Linked DNA regions of Homo sapiens. The protein of the gene in region 1 interacts with the protein of each later gene in a pairwise test. Each region holds a gene or a part of one and is shown in the gene's direction. Other genes may lie near its edges.

Evidence for each region.
Region 2: the proteins of CARD9 (region 1) and CYSRT1 interact in binary tests that used the Homo sapiens proteins (3 or more experiments, as listed by UniProt).
Region 3: the proteins of CARD9 (region 1) and TRIM29 interact in binary tests that used the Homo sapiens proteins (3 or more experiments, as listed by UniProt).
Region 4: the proteins of CARD9 (region 1) and DUSP13B interact in binary tests that used the Homo sapiens proteins (3 or more experiments, as listed by UniProt).

Annotation. Positions count from the first base shown.
Region 1 is NC_000009.12:136,370,670-136,377,575, reverse strand, and holds the start of CARD9 (caspase recruitment domain-containing protein 9), read left to right. Parts: upstream 1-3,906; 5' UTR 3,907-4,044; intron 4,045-5,481; 5' UTR 5,482-5,497; coding exon 5,498-5,681; intron 5,682-6,114; coding exon 6,115-6,252; intron 6,253-6,430; coding exon 6,431-6,735; intron 6,736-6,874; coding exon 6,875-6,906. Other genes in the region: SNAPC4 (snRNA-activating protein complex subunit 4), read left to right, coding at 1-33, 1,095-1,220. UniProt on the Homo sapiens protein: Adapter protein that plays a key role in innate immune response against fungi by forming signaling complexes downstream of C-type lectin receptors.
Region 2 is NC_000009.12:137,220,860-137,226,861, forward strand, and holds CYSRT1 (cysteine-rich tail protein 1), read left to right. Parts: upstream 1-4,314; 5' UTR 4,315-4,374; intron 4,375-4,754; 5' UTR 4,755-4,762; coding exon 4,763-5,197; 3' UTR 5,198-5,456; downstream 5,457-6,002. Other genes in the region: RNF208 (RING finger protein 208), read right to left, coding at 1-353. UniProt on the Homo sapiens protein: Component of the stratum corneum that may contribute to epidermal antimicrobial host defenses.
Region 3 is NC_000011.10:120,110,749-120,114,122, reverse strand, and holds the end of TRIM29 (tripartite motif-containing protein 29), read left to right. Parts: intron 1-1,646; coding exon 1,647-1,709; 3' UTR 1,710-2,837; downstream 2,838-3,374.
Region 4 is NC_000010.11:75,096,497-75,104,158, reverse strand, and holds the start of DUSP13B (dual specificity protein phosphatase 13B), read left to right. Parts: upstream 1-4,646; 5' UTR 4,647-4,721; coding exon 4,722-5,128; intron 5,129-6,273; coding exon 6,274-6,447; intron 6,448-7,662. UniProt on the Homo sapiens protein: Dual specificity phosphatase that dephosphorylates MAPK8/JNK and MAPK14/p38, but not MAPK1/ERK2, in vitro. Exhibits intrinsic phosphatase activity towards both phospho-seryl/threonyl and -tyrosyl residues, with similar specific activities in vitro.

The DNA of each region.
Region 1 (6,906 bases):
CCGGGCTGCACGACAGCCACATGCCCCATTCAGGTAGGGTGGGCGCCCAGCCCCACTTCCCCATGGCAGGCGGCGGTCCCTGGGGTGCCCTCGCCTGCCTGGAGCAGTGGGGTGGGGGCTGGTGGAAGTTGCGGGCAGGAAGGCTGGCTGCTGGGTGTCTTAGGAGGAGGAAGCTGGTTCCTGGCCTGCCCAGTTGCGTGTAGATTCTGCAGAAGTGGCCTCCCTTTGGGGCAGTGTGGAAAAGGGGAGAAGAGAGGCCTCATTCTCGTGCAGGAGCCTCCGGCCATCCTGATGCTGCCCAGCCAGGTGGCCTTGTCTGAGCGAGAAGCTCTGGGATGGACGCTGACCCGGCTCTGAGCCGCACACGCCACACACACGTGTGCTCCCAGGGTGGGCCATGGGCACAGTGGAGGGTGGTGGCTGTGTTTGTCTCTGGATTTCTGGGGTCCCAAAGGTCCCTCTCTGCTGTCACCTCTCTGAGTGTCCTTGGGGAGAGTTTTCCAATCTCTGTAGGTGAAACCATGTTTGGAACCCTGGAAAGCATGTGGAGCTGGGGCCCCCAGAGAGGCCTCCTCCCCTGGTGCCAGGGTGCCCACTTGCAGCAGCTGGGAGGCTGGCCTCCCTGAGAAACCACCAGAAGCAGGCAGCCTCAGCTGGACCTGTGGGCCTGTCATAGGGAGTGTGGCAGAGGGCCTTCCATCTCTCCCCAGGGTTGTGTCTCGCAAGTCCCTGGGCTGAAGTGTGGGAGGAAGCAATGTCCAAGAGTTGGGGAGGACCCCGGCCAGCCAGGGGAAGAGGCCCTCTGTGCCCCATCCATGTACAGCCTCCTGCCCTGCCTGGGTGTGATGGCTGTCCCATGGGGGAGTGGGAGGCCCACCAGAGGGATGGCTTGGATGGGGTCAGAGCCCCCGAGGGAGGGAGTGCACAGTCACGTGTGGCCCCAGGAGTGCCTGGAGCAGCTCCCGCCTGAGCTGAGGGTGCCCTGTCCCAAGTGGGACACTCACCCACAGGGCCCCTCCTCACTCCCGTCCCTTCCCCGTCCATCATGGCTCGGGGGTGTCACTCTTGTCCCCACTGCCTGGATTTTCTTTCAGGGAGCCCCAGACTCTGGTAAATGCTCTGCTTCCTCCTGCCTGGATACTTCTAATGACCCTGACGACCTGGACGTGCTCAGAACCCGGCATGCCAGGCACACCCGGAAGCGGAGGCGGCTGGTGTGAGCAGCAGGTGAGTCCTGAGTGGGGAGGCCACTGCCCTACAACCCAGGGGACAGAGTGGTGTCCAGATGGCAGGGGGCCTTGGCCTCTGCTCGGCTCTTTGGCGCTCACAGCAGGTGTGCTGGGTTAGGTGGGCAGGTCCAGGGTCATGGAGGCCCTCCAGGGGGAGAAGCATTTAACCCACATCCTTCCTGCTGGCCACCCATGCCTCGGGCCTTGGCACCACTGTGCCCCTGACCATAGGCTCATTCCCTGCCTTTGGGGTCTGGGCTCCTCCCTGGCCGCTGTGCTCTGGTGGTGCCCTGTTCCCGTGCATTGCTGCGTCGTCTCCCAGCTTGTAAAACGATCACCATCCCCAACCGCAGCCACCAGGCTGGCTCTTCACTGCTGGAGCCCTGGTGCCCTGGCCTGGCCCTTGGCGCATGTGGGTCAGGTTTACCAAGCAGACTGGGCGTGGCCGGCGCTGGGGTGGTCTTGGTTCCTGTTTGTCTGTCCCAGCCCTGCTTGGGGTCTGGCTGGGGTCAAGGGCACCCCCCACCTGGTGTTCCTGTGTTCCAGGACAAGCACTTTCTCAGAAGCCCGTGGCCCTGCTGACGAGAGACAGCCCACCCCCAGCCTGCAAGAGAGGCAGCCAGAGGCCAGGTATCTGCTGGCCGCTGACTGACCAGGTCCGCAGTGAACAGAGGCGGGCCTGCCGACTGACTGTGTGGCATGGAGCATGGCTGTTCCCCAAGTGCACACCTGAACACTTGGAGGAATAAAGTTCTGTTTTTAATTGTGGAGCTGGACACAGGCTGTTGTGGTTTTGTTGTCCTGAGGTACCGGGCAGTGTACAGGGACCCCCCACCTGGCTGGGGTCAGGCTGCTGCCTAGTGGCTGAGCCACCCTAGTGCAGGCAGTTCGGGAACAAGCAGGGTGCTGGGGGCCCAGAGCTGGGGTCCTGGAAGGCCTCCCGTACCCCGGCTGCCCTCCTGTCAGAGAAGCAGGCTTTCTTTCGCCCATTTCCTGGAAAGCATCTGTGGCTTTGTCCTTCAGGCTAGCCGGCACCCTCCCCAGATGGCTGCCAGCCCTCGCGCTGCCCTGGCTGACCCAGGGGGTTCCCTGGAACAGATGACCTGGCTACCCCGACACGGCGGCAGCCCCCACCCTCCACTGTTCCTTTTGCATGGGCCTTTATTGGCATAAGACTAGCCCCCATCTTCTCCGTCTGTCCCCTAGCTCCCTTTCCTTTGTCTCTGTGGCAGCAGCGCCCCCAGGCCCTTGGCTATCTGGGCTTCGATCCTTCACTGGAGCCACTGTGGGGCCTCAGCCCTGGGCACCTGGCAGACGGGACGGTCCCATGGCCGACCTCACTCCTGAGTATGTGTTGCTGTGCCTGGTTCTCTAGTCTGGTGCCTAGTCTGGGGGCCACTCTGATCTGTGGGTTATTTAGCGGTATATTATTTAATTTCCAAATATTTAGAGATTTTGCCGATATCTGTTACCGATTTTTAGCTTCCGATATGGTTAGAGAACATGGTATGTGTGTTCACTCCTAAGGACACACACCACAGGGAAGTCACTAAGGTCCGCGTTTTAAACGCTGGGGAAACACTGGGTCATGAGGGCCTGGTGCCAGCTCCGGTTCGCTCCCTGGCAGGGCCCAGGATGGCCCCGGCCTGCACACTCGCTCATGTTGATGGTGAGGGGTCCAGCAGGGGCACGGCCCCCTGGAATGTGGCATTCCCGAGAGCCCAGGAGGACCCCTAACTGTCCGCTCCTTAATGTGTGATGTCAGACGTTGTCCGCACAGAGGCCTGAGGGCTGGAGGCTGAGAACGGTTAGGCAAGCTCCACACCAGCTTCCTTGCCTTCCAGCCTGGCGGCCCCTTCTCGAACCTGTTGGGTGGCAACTCAGTTCAACCAGCTTTACCGGGTGAGGCGGGGCCTGGGGGTTCCCAAGCCTGCAGGGATGAGGCTCTGGCAGCCCACACGCTGAAGTGCACAGTTCAGGGCAGACTCTGCTGTCCGTTGTCCCTGGATGGGGGCCGAGCTGTGCCCTGCTGTCACCGGCTCTTCTGAAGCTGGTTTGGGGGACCCCGAGAGTGGCCTCAGTCCTCACATGCATCCTGGTGGAGAGCAGGGATGCCTCATGATGGGGATAACGAGGATAACGACACTTCTGGAAGGGACGTTTCTCCCCCGTGTGCAGCTGGGTGGTGGCCGATGCCATGGCCCCTGGCAGGCTGCTGTGGCCTCCTGGGCTCCATAAGGTGGGCTGCAGCCCTTCTGTGACCAAGGCGTGTGCTGGCCATGCCGTGTGGCTGTGTGCCCCCCTGCACATGCCCTGCCCCGCTGTCCTGAGATGCTGGCGAGGGCGAGGGTGTTCGCACAGAGCAAAGCATGCCTTACTGAAGAAGTCTCCAGAAGCCTGTGACCAGGTCAAAGTGGCTGGGTGCGGGCTGGCCTTGTCCAGCCCCCTGGGGGTCTCTGCTGTCTCTTCTACTTGCCAGGTGCCAGGGCTGGGCCTCTGGGGCATCCCCAGGACCCCCAGCCCCCGGCCAGGCTGGGAGGGCTGGGAGCAGCTTTCCTCTGGAGGGCAGCGGACTTCCACTTCCGTCTGCCTCTTGGGGCCTCCTGGGCTGGGCGAATCAGAAAGCAGGTCACCAGGGACTGTCCCCCTGTGGGAGGACTGGCGGGACTGTGGAGTTAAGCAGAACCCATCAGGAAGTGCACAGGCGTCCGGCGTGCTCCTCCCTCCCTGCAGCCCCGGGCAGCATCTCCCAGAGGCTCCGCGGCCCAGGCTCCTGGTGTGTCTGCAGTGCAGGTGGCTCCTGGAAGACCCTCAGGTGGGTGGGTCTGGTGCTTTCTGAAAGGTGGCCAGGAAGGTTGGCGTTGGCCTAGTTCAGGATCCTGGCACTGATCCCCCAGAGCAGCCTGAGGCTTCCCACAGGCAGCCAGGCAGCCTCCGCCATGCGGCCCCGTCCCTTTCACGGCCCCTGGGCGGAGATGTGTTCATTTCAGTGGAATTACGGTGGCAGATGGGACCCTGCATTTCAAGCTGGGGAAGCAGGAAAGGGGCCCAGTGTTCCCAGGACTGTCTACCGTGTGGCCAGTGTTTTTATTCAGTCCCTTGTCTGTCAAAACTGTCCTGAATGGGGTGACAAAGTGCAGCGGGAAGTTGAGAAATGCCTCAAAAGACCAAGCCTGGGGCAACTATGTCTCCAGGAGCAGTGACCCAGCTCCTCTGGGCTGGAAACCAGCGTTTCCCAGCGGGGCTGGAGGCTGTCTGAGGACCACGTGGCTGCTCCCAGCCTTGCCGCAGTCCCAGTCTCAGAGGGAGTGGCTTTCAGCGGCTGAGGCCCCCACCATGCTGGCAGAAAGGGACAGCAGTGGCTGGTCCCAACATGGGTAGTTCTGTTGCAGCCACTGGGATGGGGGCCGGGCCTCATCTGGGGCAGGAGAAGAGTCCAGGGATTCACTGGTGCCCGGCACCTCAACCTGGAGAAAACACCGCAGCAGCACTCCTGGCCAGCCAAGGGCAACACTGACAGCCCCTCCCAGGGTTGCGGGGCCGGCAGGGGGTGACAGAGACACGCTCCTGTGGGCAGCTCTTCCCGGCCAGTGCAGCGACCCCGCAGCTGCAGCAGGGCTGGGTGGCCACTCTTGCATCATCAGCAGCCGGCCGTGGAGGAGGGAGGGCACAGCCAGGGATGTGAGCAGGCGTCGGTCAGGGGAATGAGGAAGTCCCACAAGAACCGGCTCCCCCAGCTGCTGTGCTGGTGGGAGGGCCACTGGCCAACCTGCTCTCACCCAGCTTGGGCTGGCCATAGTGCCAGGCAGTTGCCCTCAGCTCCTCTGCCCATTCCAGCCATGGAGGTGGCTAACCTTGCAGGCTCCAGGGCGTGATGGGAGTGTCCAGGAGGCAGAGGCCAGAGGGGGTCATGCTGTAGGGGGAGTTCCTCTCTCAGACCCCATCTGTGCCTCCCCCGCTGCGTATCTGGGTGACATGGATGCCAACGGGCAGGAGCAAGGGCTGGGAAAGGCTGCGGAGGGGCCCTCGGCTGGTCTGGTGGGGAGCGGGGTCACTGTGTCTCTGCTGCCTCCCTGGGGGATCCAGCGTGGGGATGGGACATGGAGCTGGGCACCTCTCCTGGATGCCCCTGGGCTGATCCCCCTCGATGCCCTGACGAGAGCCCTGGCCCAGCGTCTGAGAAGGAGTGGGAGCTGGGCCCGGGTGGGGGCAGGAGCCGGCATCGCTCTCAGCACTGCCCCACACTCCCCAGCCTGCCTGCTGAGGCCATGTCGGACTACGAGAACGATGACGAGTGCTGGAGCGTCCTGGAGGGCTTCCGGGTGACGCTCACCTCGGTCATCGACCCCTCACGCATCACACCTTACCTGCGGCAGTGCAAGGTCCTGAACCCCGATGATGAGGAGCAGGTGCTCAGCGACCCCAACCTGGTCATCCGCAAACGGAAAGTGGGTCAGTGTTGCCCCGCGGGCCCCAGGCCCCAAACCCAACCACAGAGTCAGCTCGGAGGTGGCTGCACGCTCTGCCACCCTGACCCTCAACCCCAGGAGAGCCCCGCCTGGCTTTGCCCCTGGCCTCTGACTGAGGCCCAACCTCAACCCTGGCACGTGGCCCGTCCCCCAGCCTCTCCTGCCGGCTTGGTGCTGCCAAGAGGGGCAGCGGGGCTCCCACCGCAGCGGGGGCTCCTGAGACAGCCAAGGGGCGGGTGGGCAGCACTTGGTCCCCAGCCTAGTACCAAGACCCGCAGGGTACCTCATCCAAGACCCAGACCACGGCACACCTCATCTGCATGCCAGCCTCCACCTGTCCCTGCCCCCAGGCCCACCCACCCCAGCCCTCTGCCTCGCCTGTGCCCCGCCCCCAGTTAGGCCTCTCTGGCCCGCAGGTGTGCTCCTGGACATCCTGCAGCGGACCGGCCACAAGGGCTACGTGGCCTTCCTCGAGAGCCTGGAGCTCTACTACCCGCAGCTGTACAAGAAGGTCACAGGCAAGGAGCCGGCCCGCGTCTTCTCCATGATCATCGGTGAGTGACGGGGGAGGCGGGGCCGACAGGGGAGGCGCTGGCGGGGAGCGGGCAGTGGTGTTGGGTCCTCTGCCTGGCCCCCATCCCTAGGAGCCCTGAGCTCCTGCCACAGCGCAGGGCGTGATGGAGCTGGGCCACCGGGGAACACGGCACCATCTGACACTGGCCTGGCCCACAGACGCGTCCGGGGAGTCAGGCCTGACTCAGCTGCTGATGACTGAGGTCATGAAGCTGCAGAAGAAGGTGCAGGACCTGACCGCGCTGCTGAGCTCCAAAGATGACTTCATCAAGGAGCTGCGGGTGAAGGACAGCCTGCTGCGCAAGCACCAGGAGCGTGTGCAGAGGCTCAAGGAGGAGTGCGAGGCCGGCAGCCGCGAGCTCAAGCGCTGCAAGGAGGAGAACTACGACCTGGCCATGCGCCTGGCGCACCAGAGTGAGGAGAAGGGCGCCGCGCTCATGCGGAACCGTGACCTGCAGCTGGAGGTGCGCCCGCTGCCCCCGGGAAACCAGGCCACCCTCGCCTGGCCTGGCGGGGTCTGCAGGCCGGGGCGGTCGGGGGTGGCCCCACGGGTCTGCGGTCACCGCCTGGAGGGGACAGCCAGGCTCACTGGACCTTCTGCAGATTGACCAGCTCAAGCACAGCCTCATGAAGGC
Region 2 (6,002 bases), 850 kb from region 1:
ACAATGACCTCATCCTCTGGGGCCACGCGGGGAAAGCCCAGCTCCGAGCTTCCCTTACGGGGCCGCCGTGGCAGTGGCGGGGTATGGGGTGCCCCTTCCAAGGCAGGCATGTCCCCCCCACAGGCCTGGTTGACAATGATCTCTGTGTCTGAGGGCCAGGCACGCTTGGGTGCCAGAGTTGGGGTGGGCCGGGGAGCAGGCGGGAAGCAGGGGGCAGCCGGTAGCTCAGGGAACTTTTCAGGGTGGACAATCTTCATGGCCTCCATCTTGAGGATGACATGGGGACCCTTCAGGCAGGACATGAGGAGGCCCGGCCAGCCACTGCCCGCCTCGGGCCCGGGGTCAGAGGGCATCCGGCTGTCTCCAGTCAGACTGGATGTTCGGGTGGGTGGGGGCGTTGTGTGGGGCTGGGGGGCAGGTGACAGGGCAGCATCCTGGTCCCGCCAGGCCTGGGGGGGGCCCCGGACGGCCCGTGGACTCCTAGGGACAGCCGGCGAGAGTTGGGGGTGCAGGGCCCCCCCCAGTGGCCACAGTGGCTTCTCTGGTCCAGTCCTGGGAGGAGGAGGAAGGGGTGGGGGAGGGGGAGGCAGGCGGGGGCAGGGAGGGGTGGGAGGCTGCCCTGGGCTGGGGGTCTGGCCCAGGGTCTCACCCAGGGTCTCTGGCTGCTGAGGCTGGCGAGGGGGCGCGGGGGGGGCTCCCCCTGCAGCCGAGGTCAGCAGGCCGCGGGCCGGGACATCGGGGCAGGCAGGGGCTGGGTGGGCCCCATGGCTCCAGGACAGGGCGCCCAGGGAAGGCAGCTAGCCGAAGCGCTGGCTGCAGGAGGACCGGGGCGGCAGGCTCCGCGGCAGGAGCAGAGGCGAGGCCTGGGCCAGGCCTGAGCTGCAGGTGAGAGACGGCATGAGGGCAGTGCCCCGGCCACCCCCACCCTAGCCCTCGCCCTGCACAAAGGACCGGGCGCCCGACCTCTGACCCTGACCTCAGCCGTGGGATCCCGACCTCCGCGGGCCTCAGAACCCAACCCCCTCCCCGGTCCCCGCCTCCAAGGCCAGACGCACCTTCCCGAGGGCCGACCCCCGTCGCGTGGGGAGGGGCGCTGAGTCCGCCCCCGGCCCCCGCCCCCTGCGCTCACCTGCCCCAGCCTGGCGTCCCGGCCGCGCGCCGCCGCCGCAGAGGTTGTCTCAAAGGCAGGCCCGGACGCGGCGCCCGCGCCTCGGCCCGGCAGCTCGGGGGGCTCCGGCGGCTCCGGCGGCGGCCGCAGCGACCTCAGGCGATGGCGGGGCCCGGGCGGCACCGAGGGGCGCGGGCGCGGGCGTGGGGCGCGGGGCGCGGGTTTCGGCACGGCGGCGACGGCGGCAGGTGCGTGCGGAGCGTGGCGCGCTCTGCGGCGGAGGCGCGGGGACCGCAGTGCGCGCGGCGCCCGCCCGCGCCCGCAGCGCCACCCCCCGTCTGGGGACCCGCGCGGGGTCCGCGGGGCGGGGCCAGCCTCCCGGCCGCCCCTCGGTCCGCTCCCGGCGTCGCTCTCGCCCGCGGACTGCGTGGGGGGCAGGACCCCCGCGTCGCCCCCAGTTCTCTCCAGGCTGATCCTGGGTCCTGGTCAAGCCCCCGCCCCCCCAGATTCAGGAGGAGAATCCGGCTGTTCTCCTCCCTCACAGTAGGAGGCCTCAGGACTCTGGAGTGAGAGGGAGGGGACCTGCGCGGAGGATCCCAGGGGAGCTGGTTCCAGGGCCCACCGGTGCCTTCCCCCGTCCCCGGCCCCCCGCCCCATGGGAAGGCCCCGAGTCCTCCAGCTCCGCCTGTGCCCGGTGCCGTAGCTCAGATAGATCGCTGTGACTCTAAGGGGCAAGAGCGGGGCGGGCGGAGCGGATCAGAAGGCCGAGGCCGGTGGACGGACGGGTCCGGTGGGAGTGCGCGAAGGACAGGCTGGCAGCCCAGTGCGGGGTGGAGGCGGCCCTGAGGACCGCACCTGCCCGGACAGGGTGGCCCCTGGCACTCCAGCGCGCAGGCCCGGGCCTCTCCGCTTCCTCACCCGGGGCTTCCCTGCCCTCCTGGGTCCGCCTTCTGCCTGTGGAGCCCTCGGGCTTGCTGGTCACCGTGAGGCAGGGGACCAGGGCTTCGAGGGCCTCCGCTGCCACGCTGTGACCAGCTCTGGCCCCGCACCTGGCCCTGGACATCCTGGCCTCCTTCAGCTCCTCTCTCCGCTGGACTGGCCAGACCGCACCTGCTCTAGGCAGAGCCCCAGGGCCTGCAGAGTGCTGAGCCCAGAGGGGACGGTGCCGCTGGTGCGGGAGCTCGCGTGGGCAAAACAGGCTGGAGGAGCAGCCCTGCGCATAGGGTCTGGCTTGGCCCCTCTGTGGGGCCTCGGGCGAGTGTCACTCAGAAGAGCAATAGGGAGAGGTGTGCGGGTGACAGGGGCGCTGCTGGAGGGGTCCTTACGGGGCCCTGGCAAGATGGTGGGGCAACTGAGGCAGCCTGGGCCTGGGGAGGGCCGGGAGCCCAGCTCCGCCGCAGACTCTGCTCACCGACCCGGCGTGCGCCCGAGGAAGCACCAGGCCGCAGGCCCCGCCCCCTCAGCGAGACCCCACCCCGTAGGGGATGAGATCCCGCCCCCGCCACGAGGCCCCGCCCCCCAGGCCAGGCCTTTTCAGACCCGCCATTCAGAGCTGGAGAACCCCAAGCCGAGTATTGGTCACATCCGAACCGGGTCTTTCGGGAAACCCCGGAGCGCGTGGGCTTCTGGGCAATAATATTTCCACGGCCGGTTCCTGCCTTGTTTGCGCATGCGCCATAGGCGCCACTCAAGTGGCAGGCAGGGAGGTGGGCGGGACTTCCGGCGCCTGCGCAGTGGACTTCCGTCGCCGGCCTCTCAAGTTTTGGGTCCCCAGGAGCACCCAGTTCTCCCCAAATCGGGGCCGGGTTGCCTGAACTCATGTCCCGACCGGTCTGACTGGCCCTACACAGGCCACGTCTGACTGGAACCCGCCCTTCCTGGTGCTCCCCTGGGCCCCAAGGGCCCCACTGCCGTGGGTCGTCCCCGCGGCACTCGCCAGTGCCCGCTGCACCCCTGCCTGCGCCGGTGCAGATGGAGCCTGGGTTCGGCTGGAGGCGGGGGGCCCAAGGTGGGGACGCTGGGGGGGCGCGTGTGGCCCCCACGCCCGCCAGCCAGAGGGTAACTGCAGTTTGAGAAATGAGCTAAAAATGTCAGTAGTGTCTAAAGCCCGTGTCACTGATTGTAAGATAAGACCTGTGACAAAACGTGCAAATCAAACATTTTTTATCAGTGAAAAAAGCAGAAAAGCCACTGGGCACGCTGGCTCACGCCTGGAATCCAGCACTTTGGGAGGTGGAGGCAGGCGGATCACTTCAGTCCAGGAGTTTGAGATGAGCCTAGGCAACATAGTGAGACCTACATCTCTATAAAGAATTAGCCGGCGTGGTGGTGCACCTGTAGTCCTTCCAGCTACTCAAGAGGCTGAGGTGGGAGGATCACTAGAGCCCAGGAGGTTGAGGCCGCAGTGAGCCAGATCATGCCACTGCACCCCAGCCTGGATGGCAGAGTGAGACCCTGTCTCAAAAATCGGCCGGGCGCGGTGGCTCACGCCTGTAATCCCAGCATTTTGGGAGGCCAAGGCAGGCGGATCACCTGAGGTCAGGAGTTGGAGACCAGTCTGGCCAACATGGTGAAACCCTGTTTCTACTAAAAATACAAAAAATTAGCCAGGCGTGGTGGTGGTTGCCTGTAATCCCAGCTACTCGGGAGGCTGAAGCAGGAGAATCGCTTGAACCCGGGAGGCAGAGGTTGCAGTGAGCCGAGATCGCGCAGCTGCACTCCAGCCTGGGCAACAGAGCAAGACTCCATCTCAGAAAAGAAGCAGAAAGCCTCCAAGAGCCAATGGCTCTCAAGCATCTTGGTCTCTGCTAAGAAGAGGCTCAGAGGCTTAGAAGCCCTGCCTCGCCGGGGCTTTGAGGTGTGTGAGCAATGGCTGGGGACTGCAGGCCCGGGAATCTGAGGGCCTCACCCCACTTCCTTTCCAGAGCCGTGACCTCAGGCTCACCTCCTGCCCTCCTCTCAGGCAAGCTGCAGATGCCCTTTAGGGCCCAGGCCATGCCCCGGATGTGAGGGGCTGAGTCACTGGTTTGGCAGTGCCCCTCAGAGCCCAGGCCTGGGCTGCCACCCACCTGAGGACGAGGGCTGGGCCAGCTGTCGTGCTCCAGTTGCTGGGGCCTCTTGGGATCTTGGGAACCCCATCTCTGAGCCCCGCCCCATGGCCCCGCCCCTCCCAAGGAGGGAAAAGGCGGCTGCCAGTCGCTCAACTCAGGCACTGGGACCTAGAGCTCAGAAGACCGAGAGGACAGACTGCCGTGTTGCCACCACAGGTAAGCCCTTGGCCGCCGGGACTGCCCTGAACTCAGGGGCACTGCAGGGTCAGCCCCCTTCTCTCCCATCTCTCAGCCTCCCCGACCCCATTCCCAGCTCCATCCCAGGACCAATGCCACCAGGGGAGGGGGAGGATCCCTGGCAGGGGTGGCAGCTGGGAGACACCGGCCCTTGCTGCTTGCTCACACTTGGCTCACACCCATGACACTAGCCTTGCACACACATTTGGAGGTGATGGCACCCCGGCACTGATGCCTTGGGGATGCTGAGCTTGGACGAGGCACGCTGCTCCTGGTGGGGGCTTTCCTGGGCCGCAGGCTCGTGGGCAGCCATCCCACTCCACTGAGTTCATGTCTGTCTTCTCTGCCCACCCCTGCAGGCTGGACCATGGACCCCCAAGAGATGGTCGTCAAGAACCCATATGCCCACATCAGCATCCCCCGGGCTCACCTGCGGCCTGACCTGGGGCAGCAGTTAGAGGTGGCTTCCACCTGTTCCTCATCCTCGGAGATGCAGCCCCTGCCAGTGGGGCCCTGTGCCCCAGAGCCAACCCACCTCTTGCAGCCGACCGAGGTCCCAGGGCCCAAGGGCGCCAAGGGTAACCAGGGGGCTGCCCCCATCCAGAACCAGCAGGCCTGGCAGCAGCCTGGCAACCCCTACAGCAGCAGTCAGCGCCAGGCCGGACTGACCTACGCTGGCCCTCCGCCCGCGGGGCGCGGGGATGACATCGCCCACCACTGCTGCTGCTGCCCCTGCTGCCACTGCTGCCACTGCCCCCCCTTCTGCCGCTGCCACAGCTGCTGCTGCTGTGTCATCTCCTAGCCCAGCCCACCCTGCCAGGGCCAGGACCCAGACTTCAGCAAATGTGGCTCACACAGTGCCGGGACATGCCGGGACATGCGGGGTGGCTGTTGTCATGGGCGTCTGCCCCTTCACACCAGGCACTGGGGCTCAGACCCACCAGGAAGGTGGCCGTTCAGCCCGAGCTCCTGAAACGGAATCCCAGGTCCTGGCTGGAGAGGGACACCCCTGATTACCTTAAGGCCCAGGCAATAAAGCAGGGTGATCTTCCTCCCAGCAATTCTTCTTTGCTGCAGGCTCCTTTGGGAGGGGGTTGTAGCTGGACACAGGGCATCTGCCCCTTTATGTGGACCCGAGAACACACACACACAGTCACTGTGGACACTGCAAGGACAGGGATGCCACTGCCTCATGACGTCCACACTTTCCCCTGGCCTGCAAGTCCCGGGTCTGCCCAGAGACTGCACGAGGGCTTGCAGCGTGTCCACAGCCCTAGCTGAGCCAGGTCTGGATTTGAGCTGACCTGCGCTCCCTGGGGCCGAGACTGAGACTGTGAGCTGGGGTCAGTCCATGGGTCGGACAGCAGGAGGATACAGCGCATGGAACTGGGGGGACCCCAGGAAAGGCCTCCAAGAGAAGGAGCGTGTCGACAAGAGGGTGGTGGGTGCAGCAGGTGCTGCAGGTTTCAGGGAGTGGAAGGTTGGGACAGGAGAGCCCAGACAGCCAGGACCACGCCCTGCCCACTGGTGATTCACCTCCCAACCTCAGCTGGGATGTTTTTCTAGTTTCCCAGGAAATATCTAATTCCTGCACACCTCCTGTCCTG
Region 3 (3,374 bases), on another chromosome or scaffold:
TGGGCTGCAGAGAAGCTGAGCTGGGAATCAATTTCCCTGGGGGCTGGCCCCAGCTGTCTCATTGACTTGCTGTGTGACTTTGCATGAGGAAAAATGATTCCTTTGTGCCTCAGTTTTCCCATCCATAATTAGGATGATTTTGCAGCTCTTCCACCTGCTGTATGTGCTGTGACCTCAAGCCAGGGAGGGGATGGGAGGGTGAAGGTAGCATTTTGCCCTGATGCCCACCTACCACTCCAGGCTTTTAACCAGACAATGCCATTCATTGACCTGCAACCCATATTATTGACCCAATCTTCCTCAAAGAAAGGCTTCAGCCATTTCCAAATCTGTTCACTTTGCCCTATGAATTGCTTGGGGTCCAGGCTGGCCCCTGGGGGTCAGGAGACCTGGTCCAGGCTCTGCTTTGCCAGTAAGTAGCTGTTCTTACCCCTCCCTGGGTCTCAGTTTCTTCCTTTGTTTAATAGGTGGTTTAAGCAAGGTCTGAGCATCCCTCAAGTCCTGCTGTGGACCACACAAAGGCAAGGAGCTGACCAGGAGGTGTCAGTTCCCTGAGAGACAGGGCCAAAGGCAGTGTACCCTTGAGGTGTGTGTGTGAGGGGCAAATGATGTCTCCTGTATTGGGATCTGCAGGGCATGGGAGTGGGCTCAGTCTCTGACCCAGCTCAGGGACAAATCCTCTTCCTGAGACCCCCGGGGGCTGATGGTGCTTGCGTGGGTGAGCAGCAGCTAAGCTGTGCTCTTCCACTCCATCCTGGAGGGCTGCCTCCTCAGGGCCCTGATGAAGTTATCTGGGCAGGGTGGGGCATGCTGATTTCATGAAATTACTGGGAGATACAATACATGGAGAAGGCTGGGAGAGCTGTCACTGGGCTCTCTCTCCAGAGATGCTCCCTGTACCAATGGCTGGGGGAAGAGGAACAGGACGAGAGAGGCAAAGGGCTGTGGGGAGCCTGGGACCGTGTTGGACTGGGGCAGTTCTTTACCCTCTCTGCACCCTTTCTGTAAGGGAAATTTATGCAGAGAGAGGCAAAGAAAATCCTGGAAGCCCTCACCATAAGAGAAGTGATGCCGAGAACTGGCAGCTGGGGGTGTGGGTTTTGGAGGCAGCCTGCTGGGGCTTGGATTCTGGCTCCTTGCTTACCAGCTGAGTGACCTTGGGCAAGTTGCCTAGCCTCTCTGTGCCTTGGTTTGCTCAACTATAAATTGAATATGATAATAGTAATCTATTTAATTGGGTGGTTGTAAAAATTAAATGAGTGCATCCACATACAGCCCTCGACACAGTGCTGTGAAGTTCTGTGGAGTAGAAAGTGCTATATAAATAGTAGCTGTGGTGGCGCTGGAGGAACCTCCTTGAGCTGTGGAGAGAAATTTCGACCAGTGTAATGCGGGGGCTGAGGTTCAAGCTCACCCACTAACTATGGGAATGGACTCCAATTAGGATTCCAATCTGGAGATCCTGACATTAGGGACCAGCCCCTGATCACAGGGTAGGTAAATCTTGCAGATCAGGCCAAAAAGGCCCCTAGAATTGTCGGGTCTTGGATCACTGCTGCCTCCTGAGGCAGGTTAGGGTAGGGTGGGTCTAGCTAGCAGGCTCATCTGTCGTCTGGCCTCGCTGACCACTCTTGTTTCCCCCACAGTCTCACTACCGGCCATTCTACGTCAACAAAGGCAACGGGATTGGGTCCAACGAAGCCCCATGAGCTCCTGGCGGAAGGAACGAGGCGCCACACCCCTGCTCTTCCTCCTGACCCTGCTGCTCTTGCCTTCTAAGCTACTGTGCTTGTCTGGGTGGGAGGGAGCCTGGTCCTGCACCTGCCCTCTGCAGCCCTCTGCCAGCCTCTTGGGGGCAGTTCCGGCCTCTCCGACTTCCCCACTGGCCACACTCCATTCAGACTCCTTTCCTGCCTTGTGACCTCAGATGGTCACCATCATTCCTGTGCTCAGAGGCCAACCCATCACAGGGGTGAGATAGGTTGGGGCCTGCCCTAACCCGCCAGCCTCCTCCTCTCGGGCTGGATCTGGGGGCTAGCAGTGAGTACCCGCATGGTATCAGCCTGCCTCTCCCGCCCACGCCCTGCTGTCTCCAGGCCTATAGACGTTTCTCTCCAAGGCCCTATCCCCCAATGTTGTCAGCAGATGCCTGGACAGCACAGCCACCCATCTCCCATTCACATGGCCCACCTCCTGCTTCCCAGAGGACTGGCCCTACGTGCTCTCTCTCGTCCTACCTATCAATGCCCAGCATGGCAGAACCTGCAGCCCTTGGCCACTGCAGATGGAAACCTCTCAGTGTCTTGACATCACCCTACCCAGGCGGTGGGTCTCCACCACAGCCACTTTGAGTCTGTGGTCCCTGGAGGGTGGCTTCTCCTGACTGGCAGGATGACCTTAGCCAAGATATTCCTCTGTTCCCTCTGCTGAGATAAAGAATTCCCTTAACATGATATAATCCACCCATGCAAATAGCTACTGGCCCAGCTACCATTTACCATTTGCCTACAGAATTTCATTCAGTCTACACTTTGGCATTCTCTCTGGCGATGGAGTGTGGCTGGGCTGACCGCAAAAGGTGCCTTACACACTGCCCCCACCCTCAGCCGTTGCCCCATCAGAGGCTGCCTCCTCCTTCTGATTACCCCCCATGTTGCATATCAGGGTGCTCAAGGATTGGAGAGGAGACAAAACCAGGAGCAGCACAGTGGGGACATCTCCCGTCTCAACAGCCCCAGGCCTATGGGGGCTCTGGAAGGATGGGCCAGCTTGCAGGGGTTGGGGAGGGAGACATCCAGCTTGGGCTTTCCCCTTTGGAATAAACCATTGGTCTGTCACTTCTCTTGTATTGAATGACCATTTCCCTGAGGGTCCCCAGAGGAACAGGCTGCAGTTCTTCTGAATGCACTTTTTCCCTCTGATGAAGGCACGGTCATCTTCCTGCTCTCCTCTCAGAAACGTGGCTCCTTTGAAACTCCCTTGACCTCCCTCACCCTGTCTGGGACACAGGGGGTGCAGTGCAGGAACCTGGGCCTCAGGGAGGCACGCCTTGGCTAACAATGAACACAGGGAGAATGACAGTGGGGTGTGGGCCTGGGGATATGCTCAATACCTTCTGCCATGCTCAGACCTTCTGGCCGGCCCACCCTAGAGTTCCCAGGGGGAGAAGGGCCCAGAAGTGGCTGGGAGCCAAGCACTCTGGTGCTCAGACGCAGGCTGGAGTGGAAGTCCACTGGAGGCTTCAGACCTGAGGGCCTTCTCAGTGCACAGAGGGCCTTCTGGGAAGGAGAGCTCCCCTTTGAGGCTGGCAGGAGGGTCAGGCTCCTGAAGACAGCATCATCCTGGGCTTGGGGGACGGAGGAAAGGGAAAAGGC
Region 4 (7,662 bases), on another chromosome or scaffold:
GTCCCAGCCAGCCTGGGCCTTGGTTCACCTGCCTGTAACACAGAGCTCATCTCTCTTCCAGAGCTGGTCCTTACTCCCTGCCATGGGGCTCTGCCACTTTGCCACCCTGGCACTGATCCTGCTGGTGCTGCTGGAGGCTCTGGCCCAGGCGGACACACAGAAGATGGTGGAAGCCCAGCGTGGGGTCGGCCCTAGAGCCTGCTACTCCATCTGGCTCCTCCTGGCGCCTACACCCCCTCTCAGCCACTGTCTTCAGTCTCCACAGGTGGGAGTGGGCTCCCCTCTCAGCCAAGCCCTCAGGCTTCTTGGCCAGGGACCCCAAGTTCCCTGGGAAAGTGGGGAGGGGAGGAGAGAGGAAGGGGGTTCCAGATATTTGTGATAGCTGTTGGCCACAGCTGTCTCCAGCAGCTCCCCTCAGGGCTCAGAGAGCCCCAGGAGGGGCTGAGCCTTAGCTCCCTGGAGCTCAGACCTCAGAGACCCAGTGCAGGTATGGCTGCAGGCATGGGTGTGCCCTGTTCCCACCATCTGGGAGTGCAAGCGGGGAGTAGTATCAAGGTATGTGTGTATGACAAAGGTCTGTGGATGACAGAGAAGATTTCTAGTAGGCCCAATTGAAGGTCCTAGCTGACCACAGTTAGCATGGGGAGAGACCTTAAAGACCATCTCTCTGGCCTCAGGGGACAGTGGGGCCTGGGTGTCCCTGCCTTTTGGGTTGGGGGAGGAGCTTGGCAGAGGGTGGGAGTGGCCCTGGACACACTGCTTCTGCCTGCAGCCCAGGGCTGTCTGAAGACCTGCTCTACACCTGTGTCTGTGTGTGGGCCTGTGCTGCTTCCCTCAGCCTGAGTCTTCTAGGTCTTTATCCTGGACCTGTCCCATCGGCCTTGGCCCCTAACTGAGGGCCCCGGACCTGGGTCCTGCTGTTGGCAATGCCACCAGTTTACATGTGATTTTTGGCTAGCCTCTTCACTGTCCTCCTCCACAGAACATCCTTCCAACTTGAACTTCCTGCCCTTCTTCTATAATACCCTTGAAGGCCAAGGGAGAGGGTCTCACTCCAGTTGCTTAGGCTGGAGTGCAATGGCATGGTCAAGGATTAGGGCTCACTGCAGCCTTGACTTCCTGGGCTCAGGTGATTCTCCCACCTCAGCTTCCCGAGTAGGAGGGACTATAAGTGTGTGCCACCACAACCAGCTAATGTTTTTTTTGGAGACGGAGTTTCGTTCTTGTTGCCAAGGCTGGAGTGCAATGGCGTGATCTCAGCTCACTACAACCCCCACCTCCCGGGTTCAAATGATTCTCCTGCCTCAGGCTCCCGAGTAGCTGGGATTACAGGCATGCGCCACCACGCCCAGCTAATTTTGTATTTTTAGTAGAGGCAGGTTTTCTCCATGTTAGTCAGGCTGGTCTCGAACTCCCGACCTCAGGTGATCCGCCCACCTCGGCCTCCCAAAGTGCTAGGATTACAGGCATGAGCCACCGCGACCAGCCCAACTCACTAATTTTTTGTATTTTTAGTAGAGACAGGGTCTGGCTATATTGCCTAGACTGGTCTTGAACCCCTGGGCTCAAGCAATCCTCCCACCTCAGCCTCCCAAAGTGTCGGGATTATAGGCATTAGCCACTGCATCCGGCCAAGGGACCTTTTAAAATGGTTTATTTGATCTTCCTTCTCCCACTATCTCTTTTTTTCTTTTTGTTTTTTCTTTTTTTCTTTTTGAGACGGAGTCTCGCCCTGTCGCCCAGGCTGGAGTGCAGTGGCGCGATCTCGGCTCACTGCAAGCTCTGCCTCCCGGGTTCACGCCATTCTCCTGCCTCAGCCTCCTGAGTAGCTGGGACTACAGGCATCCACCACCACGCCCGGCTAGCCTGTTAGCCAGGATGGTCTCGATCTCCTGACCTCATGACCCACCCTCCTCGGTTTCCCAAAGTGCTGGGATTATAGGCTTCAGCCACCGCGCCCGGCCCCTTCTCCCACTATCAACATACATGTACACAATATGCCACAGTCAGACCTGGGCTGAGCTGCCTTGATTCTTAGCAGTGCTGGGACAGAGGCCTGGGCCTGGAGGGAAAGGTGCCTGACTGTGCTTGGCACTGGCCATGCCATGGAACCAGTGGACAAGTTGGGAGTGGCAGGGGAGGCTGGAAGAGGGGAGTAGACAGCATGCTTTATAATTAAACTCAAATCAAAAAATAGAAACAGCATCAAGTGTGCGGAGACAGGCGGCTGAAAGCCAGCAGCACGAACTGCCCGTCAGAGAAGTGCACAGCCTGGGCCAGATACTCCCACAGGTGGGTGAGTGCTCCTAATTTGGGGGGGGTAGGATGTGGTCCCTGAGCATGCTGGGTAATGAGGGCCAGGACACTTGTGCCTGTGTGGGGAGGGGTGGGGTTTGGGTTGGGTAGAGAACCGACTGGGTCAGAGATGAAGGCGCAGACAAGGTATAGTAGAGTCAGAGAGACCTGGGTTTGAATCCTGACTCCCACATCAATTGGCTATGTGACTCTGGGTATGTTGCTTAACCTCTCTGAGTCTCGGTTTCCTCATCTGTAAAATGGGGATGATAATATTACCTGCTCCATAAAGGCACTGTGAGGATTCAATGAGAAAATGTGAGCACCTAGCTCTGTCTGGCACATAGTACATCCTTGATGAGTGCTAAATATAACAATTATTGCTGGACAGAGAAAGAAATATCAAGAAATACAGAGATAGAGAAGAAATCTCACTGTCCCGTAGGGAAGTTACCCTCCACATAGGATATGGCTGGGGCTGGAAAGGGTAAGAGTAATTATAGTAGTGATAATAATAGTAAGACGTGCCATTTATTGGGCATCTACCATAAGACAGACCCTGTGGGAGGTGCTTTACATTAATTATTACATGGAATTCTCACAGCAGCCCCACTGAAGAAACTGGCTTGGTGAAGACAAGACCACATAGCTGCAAGTACCAGACCTGAGATTTCTACCCAGGTCTGCCCTCCCCAAGACCCTCAGGCTGAGCACAGAGACCCACAGCTGTTCCCCACTGGCAGCCACACGCCACCCTTCTGCAGGCCTTCTCCCCACACTCCTCACTGGTCCTGCCCTGAGATCTCCAGCCCCACATGGCCTGTGGCCACACTTCTGTCTGGCCTCCCTGGAGTGGAGTCAGAAAGGATGGGCAGGAAGAAAGTCCAGGGGACTATCTGAAACTGCAGCTGAGAGGTGGATGGCAAACAGCTGCCCCCTGCCCCAAGGAAGCCTGTGCCTCTGCCCGATGTCTTGGGCACACAGAGCAGCGTCATGGGAGGCTGCAAAGGCACATGAGCTTCCTGGGGGAGGATGGGAGACAGAGGCAAACGGGGGAGTGACCCAGGGAGGAGAGATGCAAACACAGAAAAGAAGTGCATGGACTTGCAAACAGCAGCAGCACAGGAGCAGCCAGGAAAAGCCCTGCCTACAGAGGCAGCTGCTCTGCTGAGCGGGGGAGGCAGGAAGGGGGCGAGGAGGAGCACGGGATCAGGGAGAGAAGGAAGACTGCAGGGAGTGGGAGGGGAGCTCGGCCGGGCCCTGGCCCTGCTGGACGTTGGGCCTGTGCTTCACCCAGCTGGGGACAAGGAGACATGGAATGTAGTGTCAGGCAGGGCCCTCCGAAGACCAAGTCTCAGGTGTCAGAAACCGGCGGAGCTGCCACAACCACCGACTTCCCCTCCTTGGGAGGGACTGGGGCTTAAAGGACGAGTCCCTGGGGGGGTGGCCGGGCCTGACTCTGACTGATGGGATGGGCTGGGTCCCAGTGGGTTAGAGTGGACAGGTGGGGCAACACCCTGAGCATCGGGAGCAAGGCATTAGGTGGAGCCTGACCAGGCATAGCGCTAAGTCCAGGGGAGAGCCCCGTTCTTCAGACCTGGGCCTAGGTCCCCTCGGAGGCAGAGGCATGCACTGTGGCCTACCAGCCCCCAAATCCTTGACCCCTCTGGAGCCTCCTGGGGGTGGAGCCTGGCTGCCTGCTCCCTGGCAAGGCTGGGCTGTGACACACCCATTGGCCACCAGGGGGCAGCCTCACCCCATGCCAAGCTCCGCAGGCCTGAGCCCGGAGCCTGTCCCACTTCCCAAAGCCCCATCTCCTGCCTGGGGTGGTGCAGCCCCACCTGATGGCTCCAGACCAGTGTGGCTGTTGGACTCCTCTGGGTCCTGGGGGCTTCCCCAACTCCACCACACTACACTGCCCTCTGCCCTGCAGTGACCGCATATCCAGACACTCCTCTCTCATTCTCGGGTCAGACCCCCAGAGCATCCTGAAAATTAAGTCCAGCATCCCTAGCATGGGAAGATAAACTGTGGTCCAGATGGGAGCAAAGACTTGCTCGTGGCCACAGAATGAGTTATGGCAGAGTGCTGGGGGAGCCAGGCTCTCCTCCCTGCCTCAGAAGTTCTCTTCCCACCTCTTCAGGTAGACTCCCATCTTCATGGAGGTTTATGGAACCAACGGTCTTCAATCCCAAACAGATACCAAGCAGAGAGGAGGCCTGGGGGTTTAGAGGGACCGGAGGGCCCACTGCAGTCCACAAGGCCTCAGTCGGCTCTCAGGCCCCACCCCCCATGGGCGCCCCAGCCAGCACCTGGAATTCTAGCCGCTTCACAGTGTTTGTGTTCTGGGCAGAACCTGCCCAGCCCTGTTCCGCTCAGGCAGAGTCCTGCCCCTGCACCCACTCCCCCATTCCCGGCCCCAGGCCATGCCCCAGGTAGGTGGCAGGCCACTCAGCCACCTGGAGAGGTCACAGTGGGGGATGAGGAGGACAGCTTGGTCTTCACTTCCGCCTTGCCCGACAGCCTCCCACTGGGTGAGCCTGGCCAAGCCGGCAGCCTCCTGGGTGCCTGTTTCTTTTTCTGGTCCTGGCACTGCCTACCAAAGGGAAAAGATGTTCTTCCCAGTATGCACCTTCCCTAGTCACTGGTCCAGGGGATCAGGGGCAGTTAGCAAAGACAGGACCCCCTCTCCAACACGGCACCAGGCCCATATTCTGGTGCCGCTGAAAATCCAGCTCCGCAGGGTCCCTGACTCCTTCAGCCAGCAGATGCCTGAAACAAGCTACCTGACCCGGGTGGGGCCTGACATCCAGTGCTGGCCTGAGTCGTGGGGGTAAGGAGGAAAACCCAGGGCCTGTAGGCAGGTGTGTGGCTCAGCAGTACCAGGCTCCCTTGAGGAAGCAGATGGGTTAGTGACCACTCTCTGGAGGCCCCAAAGATGGTAACTGAAAGGCTTGGGGATGGACTAAAACCCCAGCCTTGCTACTCATGAGCCGTATGGCTTTGGGCATCACTTTTAAAACATTCTGAGCTTCAGCTTCCTCCTGGGTAAAATAGGAACAGATATCCCACGAGTGAGACATCAGGCTTTTTGTTGTTGTTGAGATGGACTCTCGCTCTGTTGCCCAGGCTGGAGTGCAGTGGTGTGACCTCAGCTCACTGCAACCTCTGCCTCACAGGTTCAAAAGGTTCTCCTGCCTCAGCCTCCCTAGTAGCTGGGACTACAGGAGTGGACCACCACACCTGGCTAATTTTTGTATTTTTGGTAGAGACAGGATTTTGCCTCATTGGCCAGGCTGGTCTCGAACTCCTGACCTCAGTTGATCTGCCTGCCTCAGCCTCCCAAAGTGCTGGGATTACAAGTGTGAGCCACCGTGCCCAGCCAGAGGCATCAGGCTTATAAGAGGCATTAGCTCATTCCATGCGGAGTTGCTAACAAATACCAGTTCACAGTCCTGGCCTCTTACCTGGAGATAGGCTCTGATCTCCAAGCCCCTGAAAGTGGGAGGGGACGGGGGTCTGAGGATGAGTACTGGAAGTAGCAGGTGAGGGGGCTTGAGATGAGCTGCTTAGGTTGGTGGGGGCTTCCTGGGTGCCCTGAGAGCCACAGCCATCTGGGGCTTTCATCCCTACAAAGTCCAAGCTGATTTAGGGATGAGATCTGCACTGACTAGTGCCACAAACAGGGAACTCCAAGGGCCCCTTGGCCAAAGCTTCATACATCTGCAGCTCAGCAGAGGGCAGGAGAGAGGTCTGCCCAGCTCCATAGCAGTGACAAAGGCTTGATTCCCTTGTTCCCTGGGGAAGGGTTCTAGGCCTCAGCCCCAGCTGAGCTTGTTAATACCTCATGTGAAATAGATGAAGCCCTTCCTGCAGCATCCCCGTGGCACCTAGGCACTGCACCATGGGCTTCCCCATCAGCTGGATCCACCCTCTGGGAGCCTGCCTCCAGCCACTGCGGTGTCCACTCTGTTCCAGGATGGACTCACTGCAGAAGCAGGACCTCCGGAGGCCCAAGATCCATGGGGCAGTCCAGGCATCTCCCTACCAGCCGCCCACATTGGCTTCGCTGCAGCGCTTGCTGTGGGTCCGTCAGGCTGCCACACTGAACCATATCGATGAGGTCTGGCCCAGCCTCTTCCTGGGAGATGCGTGAGTAAGACCCACGTTAGGAGTGGGGATGGCGGAAGGGTGTGAGGTTCACACGGGAATGGGGGCATGAGCCTCTCTCAGAGCCCTCTAGGGCAGAGGTGGCACGCTTGCCTCCCACCGTCTCTTTCCCTATGTTTCTTTCCTTTTATATTATTACTGCTTTTAACTGTGGAACTAGAATGCACATAAGAAAAGTGCACAGGGCCGGGTGCGGTGGCTCACGCCTGTAATCCCAGCACTTTGGGAGGCCAAGACAGGTGGATCACTTGAGGTCAGAAGTTCGAGACCAGCCTGGCCAACATGGTGAAACCTCATCTCTACTAAAAATACAAAAAATTAGCCAGGTGTGGTGGTGGACGCCTGCAATCACAGCTACTCAGGAGGCTGAGGCAGGAGAATCACTTGAATCCAGGAGGCAGAGGTTGCAGTGAGCCGAGATCGTGCCACTGCACTCCAGCCTGGACAATAAGAGCGAAACTCTGTCTCAAAGAAAGAAAAAAAAAAGGAAAAAGGAAATGTGCACAGAGCACGTATGAACAGCTTCATCACCCAGTGAAGAAAAAGGATATTACTTGTCTCCCAGAAGCCCCTACTGAATCCTTCTCATTATAACTTTTCTATTCTCTGTGGTTAATCACTATCTGTTGAATTAATTATTTTCTGTAAAGTTTTACCACCTATATATCTAAACAGTGTAGTTAGTTTCACCTGTTGTTTAAAATGATATGAGTGGAATCATGTTGTGTGTGTTTTGTGCCTGGGATCATTTGCTCAAATTTGTGAGTCACCCACATTGTTATGTGTACCTGAAGTTCATTCATGTTTTCACTGCTGGAGTCATCATATGATTATGCCACAGTTTATCCATTTTACTGAATATGGACATTTGAATTGTTTCCACTTTTTGACTATTATGAACAGTGATCCTAGTAATATTTCATTTTAAAATTTTTATTTATTTATTTAGAGACAAGGTCTCTCTCTGTTGCCTAGGCTGGAATGCAGGGATTATCATCATTCACTGCAACCTCAAATTCCTAGGCTCAGCAATTCTCCCACCTCAGCCTCTCAAGTAGCTGGGAATACAGGTTTGCACAACCACACCTAGCTAATTTTTCTTTTTTTTTTTTTTTTTGAGGCGGGGTCTCACTGTGCCACCCAGGCTGGAGTATAGTAGTGCAATCTCCACTCACTGCAGCCTCAACCTCCCAGGCT